Linked DNA regions of Homo sapiens. The protein of the gene in region 1 purifies or fractionates together with the protein of each later gene. This does not show direct contact. Each region holds a gene or a part of one and is shown in the gene's direction. Other genes may lie near its edges.

Region 1 (3,824 bases):
ACTTTGTTAAGCTTTTCTATATATTTGCAACTCCTTTTTTTTTTTTTGAGATAGAGTCTCACTTTTGCCGAGGCTGAAGTGCAGTGGTGTATACATGACTCACTATAGCCTTAACCTCCCAGGCTCAGGTGATCCTTCCTTCTTGGCCTCCTGAGTAGCTGGGACCGTAGTCATGTACCACCTTGTCCAGCTAATTTTTTTAAATTATTTGTAGAGACAGGATCTCCCTATGTTGCCCAGGCTGGTCTCCAACTCCTGGACTCAAGCAACTCTCCCGCCTCAAGAAATTCTTATATGTATGCTCATTATCAGAAAATACCACACGGTAATTTTTCTGGCTTACATCAGCAATTCTCAACCAACAATGATTTTGCTTCCCAGGGCACATCTGGCAATGTATGGAGACATTTTTGGTTGTCACAACTGGGGAGTTTTACTGGTATCTAGGAGAGGCCAGGGATACTGTGAAAACATCCTAAAGGGTACAGGACTACTACCCCCCAACAGAGAATTTTCTGGCCTAAAATTTCAGTAGTACCAAGATTGGGAAATCCTGGCTTACAGAAAACAAACCTTGCTCTGTTCTTCTCATGCCCCCACCCCTTCTTATTTGCACCTAGCCTTAATAAATTCACCATTAGGTGTTTCTGAGGGAACATAATGTTCTGGAAATCACCAGTATTGGAATTATAGATCTAAATCAAAGACAGAGGTTTAGAAGAGAAACCAAGAAATAGCCAAGTAGTGAGTATGGGGGAACATTACCAAGACACTTAAAAGGCTACATGGGATTTAGTTTTAGCAGGGAAAGGTTCAAAGTTTTTCCTCCAGCAAATGATTATTTCCCTGTTTTCCCAAGATAGAGTGCTGTTGTCTCTCTCAAAGGCTATAAATTAATTCACAGCATTTGAAAGAACATCCATTCACGGCTTTTTAAAGAATATCTTTATTTACCAAATGTTCTCCTGTGGGTGGTTGCCAAGGCTACTGCCATAATGAAGGTGGGGCTGCTGTTATTCATGTTTCCTTGTATTATGAGGGGGGCGGAAAGAACACCCATTATATTTCATTGAAATCAGCTTATTGTGTGGATCCAGGATTTCACGCCCAGCTGAATAAATCAGAATGTTTTCCTTAGGCATTTGTTAACTTAAAAAGACATCCTTTATAATTTTTACTTGCTCTTGACCAAAGCATAACTAAATGCAAATTTTTTGTTTTTGTTTTTCCACCAATAACCAAGAAGATGTTTTTATATTTAATGGAAAAGTGGCTCACTATACATGTAGTTCACTGTAAGTTATGTGTTGCTTGTGCCTTATTGACTGTTCTTTAATTGTTTTTGTTTGCTTGTTTTTAGAGAAGCTTCCGATAATCTTGCAGTGCAAAATCTGAAGGGGTCATTTTCTAATGCTTCAGGTATAATTACTAATTATAATCTGAACATAATGATGCTTATATGTTTGCTCTAAGCACTTATTACTGTAGCTAACTGCTTGTGACACTGGAAATCTATTTTTAAAATAACATATACGCAATAAATTGTACCACATGGGATGCATCCCTATGCTTTGAAATCCACATCCTAGAAAAGGATAAAACAACTGGAATTTAGCTGACTCTTCTACTCTATCTCTTATTTTTACAAGTGATTTAATCTTCCTTTTACTCAATTTATTGTACAAGTGAAATGTGTATAATTTTCCTGGAGATTTTCCTCATACAGAGGATTGAAGGAAGTATTTTGAAATCCCTTGAAGAAGGACACTATACACATTTTGTTTTCGTGAAAGCCAAGAGGGCACAGTGGTGATAGTTATGCCTTTGCTTTCATCACCTCTAGCAACCTTACTTCTTTTTTAAAGAAGTGTTCCAATTAAGGCCATGAGAAGACATATTTGGCTTTTAACAGAATTGAGTCTTTCCCATTCTCTTCTGTTAGCACTAACTTTGTGTTGCCATCAGATTTCCAATTCTTGCAGGAATTTAAAGAAGTATGCAGGTTTGGTGATATTCAGCTTGATTTTCTTAGGCCCCTGAGGTTTTGATGACTCCTGTTGCCTCCCTGCCCCTTCCACCACCCCCCAACCCCTGCCTGAGGAGAGAAGCATCAAAACTGCTGGGTGTTGGGGTTCTGGGCTCCTCACCTATCCGGTGCAGATGGTTGTAGGGATAGAAAACACAGCCCAGTCGTGATCTAGCCCTTAGAATCACGACAGGATGTCTACTAATAAACTCTGCCATCTCTCTGTAGTATGTTGTAGAAAGTGGGACCAGATAAGGCCATAAATTCTGAAACTCTCTTGGTCTCAGGTTTGTTTGAAATCCATGGAGCAACAGTGGTTCCCATTGTGAGTGTGCTAGCCCCGGAGAAGCTGTCAGCCAGCACTAGGAGGCGCTATGAAACTCAGGTACACTGGGTCAGGGTTTCTTTGGCTTTCTAATATGAGTTACAGAAGAGAAAAACAACAACAGGAAAGGAAAATAAGATAAACATGGAATTTCTTGGAAATATTTTTTCCAAGAAAAAAATTTTTCTTCCAACTTGCCTAACTGGGTGGCTTCTGGCTCCAGGATTCCCATCTGTCCTTCAGAGAGGGGCCATTGTGCACTGTGGGCACCTCAAGGCAGCTGTTGTCAGAGTGACTGCATCTAAATGAAAACTATCTAATCTGGCTCTAAAGGTAGTTGAGGTTTGTTTGTGCTCTAAATAGCAAAGTAGAAGAGGCCGATGACAAGACTTAAGGCAGGCTTCTCATTCCATACATGGTTTCGGCATTTGCTATATGCCTACTGGTGTGCTAAGGGCTGTGTAAAATGTAGAAAACATTAACATGGCCCCAGTCCTCAAAAGAGTTTATAACTTAGAAGCATATGCATTATATAGAGAATAATAAAAGCAAATAAATATAGGCCAGGTGCGGTGGCTTATGCCTGTAATCCCAGCACTTTGGGAGGCCGAGGAGGGCGGATCACTTGAGGTCAGGAGTTCGAGACCACCCTGGCCAACATGGTGAAACCCTGTCTCTACTAAAAATACAAAAATTAGCCAAGCGTGGTGGCAAACGCCTGTAATCCCAGCCACTCGGGAGGCTGAGACAGGAGAATTGCTTGAACTGGGGAGGCAGAGATTGCAGTGAGCCAAGATCATGGCACTACACTACAGCCTGGGCAACAGAGCAAGACTTTGTCTCAAAATAAAATAACTACAGTAGAACACTGAGTTAAATTTATAGAATATGAATGTTAGAGTATGCTGTGGACATATGCAAAAGAGTGAGTGTTAAAAGAGAGCAGTCAATTTTAGAAATGTAATCAGACTGAAATACAAAAATCAGGTACTTTATTTTTGTAAGCTCTTCTAGCTGTTTCTCAGGATTTGGGTGGAAACCTATTTTTCCCGTCTTCCTACTGCCTTCATCACCTACCAAGTTTCAGTTCTCACACCATGTCCTCATTGCTGCCACCTCTCCCTTTTTCCCAATTTAGCTTCATACTATCATCTCTCTGTCTCTGTGTGCACTGTTTCACTGCGCTACGCCTTTATAAGGAATCATTTCAAAATTATGAAGAGATAATTGACAAGGATTATTAAACAAATGGTCAAGATAAGTTATAAAAACCTCATTTCCCCTGAGATCATATTGCTAGACACCCCTTTCTGAGTGGATTAAGAGCAAATCTTCTTTTTTTTTTTTGAGACAGAGTCTCACTCTGTCACCCAGGCTGGAGTGCAGTGGTGCAACATCAGCTCACCACAACCTCTGCCTCCCATGTTCAAGCGATTCTCCTGCCTCAGCCTCCCGAATAGCTAGTATTATAAG
Region 2 (3,824 bases), on another chromosome or scaffold:
AAATGCCATAAACCCTGAACAAGTATGAAAAATAACTACCTAAAGACAATGAGAAGCAGCCAAAAGCAGGCCAAAATTGAAAATTTGAAGGTGAGTCGACACTTATAAGAAAGGGTATGTTTTCTGTTTTACACCTTTTTTTTTGACCTAAGTACATGCTGAAGACAGCTTCAAGCCAGGCAGCTAAGGTTCTAGCAGAAAATTTATGGTCTTATTGGCTTTAGAACTGGAGGCGAGAGTTGTAGACAACCATAGTAGATGGAAACTGGTGGTGATAGTGGTGAGGGTTAGAGAAAGGAGGCGGCAGGCACAAAGGGAGATCCCCTAAGTCTATATAAATTCTTCCCAAATCTCTGGTTTGTCCCTGAACTACTGAAACACAGGGTGGACTCCAGGTAGCCTAATAGGGGAAAAATCTGAACAGATTTCAGTTGCTTACCATCTGGGGAGACAGAGCTTATAGTTTTGAGTTCAGATTCTGACTGCCTGCTAAAACAAAAAATCTATATTCTCTTTTTTTGGGGGATGGAGTCTCACTCTGTCGCCAGGCTGGAGTGCAGTGGCACGATCTTGGCTCACTGCAACCTCCGACTCCCTGGTTCAAGCAATTCTCCTGTCTCAGCCTCCAGAGTAGCTGGGATTACAGGCACACACCACCATGCCCAGCTAATTTTTGTATTTTTGGTAGAGACAGGGTTTCACCATGTTGGCCAGAATGGTCTTGATCTCCTGACCTTGTGATCCACCCGCCTTGGCCTCCCAAAGTGCTGGGATTACAGGCGTGAGCCACCACGCCCCACCCCATCCAGGTCACTTTGTGCTAAGTGTTCTACACTTGGTCAGCATTCTCATAAATACGGTGCATGGAATGGAACACGGTGGGCACGTTGCGTGAACTCACAAATTCAAGACCAGCTGGGGCAACATGGCAAAACCTCATCTCTACAAAAAATACAAAAATTAGCTGGGCGTGGTGGTGCACCCTGTAGTCCCAGCTTCTCGGGCGGCTGAGGTAGGGGGATGGTTTGAGCCCAGGAGGCGGAGGCTGCAGTGAGCCAAGATTGCACCGCTGCACTCCAACCTGGGTGATAGAACCAGACCTTGTCTCAAAAAAAAAAAAGAGAGAGGTGAAGGAAGTTCTTTAAGCTGAAGAGATGTGATGACCTGACATGGAAAATATATAGGTAAATGTAAAAGACTATTTTTGCCCTTCTTAGTTTCTTTAAAAATATATTTAACTATTTGTCTCATTTGTGCCTGTGGGATTGTAATCTATAGAGGTGACTGAGTGATGACACAGTCCAATGCCCTTGAAAGAAAACTTTTACTACTTATATTGCCTGAGAGAAGGGGGCTTGATGTGCCATGCAGGGCCACATGGGGAAGCACCAGTTTTAGTCAGGAGTCACAAGGAACTAGGGGAAAAAGTAGGTCAGAGCTTTTGTTGGAGTTTCTGCAGGAAAAGCAAGGCAGAGCAGCGTAAACGGCTTGCAGTTGGCTAGTTTGAATGCTTTTGGCGGGCCTTGGGGCATAAAGACTGCCCTGCTTGTCTAATACCTGGCCCTTGACTTACAGCAGGGAGAATTTTGGCTTGGTGTATGAGTTTATGGGCTCCAGATTGGCTGCTCTGCATAAGAAAGGCATGCTACCAAGCAAGCCCTTTGCTGACTCCTCCCCACCTGACGGAGGGGCAGTCTCTCCACAAATGTCAGAGCCTCAAGAATACAGAAAATAAGAAAATATTTAGTTACTACTAATAATATTAATAATAAAATATATAGTTAATACAGTTGGCTCTGTGATTAATGGATGCCAAGTAGTTAAATATAGAAGCTAAGAAAACAGAATACTGTTTAAAGCAGGCTTAGTACACTTGACAACTTAATCACAAAGGCCAGGAGGTGTGGGGTAAATAGATCTATATGATTCTTAACGATTCTTACATTTTATGTGCAGTAGTAAAATTAAAAGGTTAAGGATGTATATTGTAAATTCTAGAACAACCATTAAATAAGCCAGTTGCAGTGGTCTGTGCTTGTAGTCACAGCTGTTCGGGAGGCTGAGGTGGGAGAGTCACTTGAGGTCAGTAGTTCAAGACCAGCCTGGGCAACATAGTGAAACTATCTCTAGAAATAAGTAAGTAAAATACAAAATACACTATTGTAAAAGCCAAAGATATATTAAAATGGAATTCTAGAAAACATTAACCTAAAAGAAAACTCAAAAGAAAAAAACAAAAACCAGAAAGAACAAATAGAAAACAAATACCTAAAATGTAGGTATTCAATTATTCAGTTATTGATACAACTGAATTCATTTATATCAGTAATTAAATGTAAATCAAGTAAATATTCCAGCTAAAAGGCAGAGATTGTTAGGATGAATTAAAAAGCAAGACTCGACGATAATCCTGTCTACAAGAGATATACTTGGTTGAAAATAAATGGATATAAAAAGATATGCTATGCAGACAATACCTTAAGGAGACAGTGTCTATTAATATTAGATAAAGTAGATTTAAAGACATAGTATTTTCAGATTTAAACAGGGACATTTTGTAATGATAAAGGGTCAATTTGTTAGAAGGAAAACAACAGTCATCACTGTGTATGTGCCTAATAATAGAGTTCAAAATATAAAGCAGAAATTGAATTCAAGAGAGAAATAGACAAATCTATAATCATAGTTGGAAGTTTGAACAAGCTCTGAACAATTGGAGAAACAATTAGATCAATGAAGACCTTGACTTGTTTGATACCTAGAACACTGCACCCAGAAAAGGCAAAATACACATTATTTTCAAGTGTGCATGACATTCACCAAGATAGACAATAAGGTGAGCTATAATATTAATACAACTCTAAATAAATTTCTAAGGGTTGGAATACAAATATGTTCTCTGATCACACTGGAAGTAATTTTGAAATCAGTGTCATATCTTGGGAGGGAAGAGTTTGCAGTATTAAATAAGCCCTTCCAAATAATTCATATATTAAAGCCTTAAGGGAAAATTTATAGCTTTAATTACTTATATTAGAAAAGAATAAAGATCTAAAACAGTTATCTAGGCTTTTGTTTTAGAAGATAAAAGAAAGGAAAGGTAAACTCAAAGTTGCTGAGACCAGCTCTGTTGGGGAGACCCTAACCCAGAGGCGCTAGAGGAATTAAAGACACACACACACAAATATAGGGGTGTGAAGTGGGAAATCAGGGGTCTCACAGCCTTCAGAGCTGAGAGCCCCGAACAGAGATTTACCCACATATTTATTAACAGCAAACCAGTCATTAGCATTGTTTCTATAGATACTAAATTAACTAAAAGTATCCCTTATGGGAAATGAAGGGATGGGCCGAATTAATTGCAGCAGGAACACGTCCTTAAGACACAGATCACTCATGCTTTTGTTTGTGGCTTAAGAATGCCTTTAAGCAGTTTTCTGCCCTGGGCGGGCCAGGTGTTCCTTGCCCTCATTCCTGTAAACCCACAACCTTCCAGCTTGGGCGTTAGGACCATTATGGACATGTCGCAGTGCTGCAGAGATTTTGTTTATGGCCAGTCTTGGGGCCAGTTTATGGCTAGATTTTAGGGGGCTTTCTCCCAACACAAAGTAAGTAGAAGAAAAGAAATAATAAGGATAAGATAATCGGTGAAAATAGAGTACCAGAAAATCAGAGAACAGTATCAAAGTTAAAAACTTGTTTTTTGTTTTTTTAAAAAAGAGCAAAATTGATAAACCCCTAGTTAGGCTGATGAAGAAAAGGAAATAACACAAATTACCAATCTGGAATGAGAATGGGGCTATCACTGCAGATGCTACAGACAT

The links.
Region 2: the proteins of EIF2AK4 (region 1) and EIF2S1 purify together in Homo sapiens (affinity purification with western blotting; one study listed by BioGRID). This does not show direct contact.

What each region holds. Positions count from the first base shown.
Region 1 is NC_000015.10:40,028,046-40,031,869, forward strand, and holds part of EIF2AK4 (eIF-2-alpha kinase GCN2), read left to right. Parts: intron 1-1,360; coding exon 1,361-1,419; intron 1,420-2,313; coding exon 2,314-2,411; intron 2,412-3,824. UniProt on the Homo sapiens protein: Metabolic-stress sensing protein kinase that phosphorylates the alpha subunit of eukaryotic translation initiation factor 2 (EIF2S1/eIF-2-alpha) in response to low amino acid availability.
Region 2 is NC_000014.9:67,366,728-67,370,551, forward strand, and holds part of EIF2S1 (eukaryotic translation initiation factor 2 subunit 1), read left to right. Parts: intron 1-3,824. UniProt on the Homo sapiens protein: Member of the eIF2 complex that functions in the early steps of protein synthesis by forming a ternary complex with GTP and initiator tRNA. This complex binds to a 40S ribosomal subunit, followed by mRNA binding to form a 43S pre-initiation complex (43S PIC).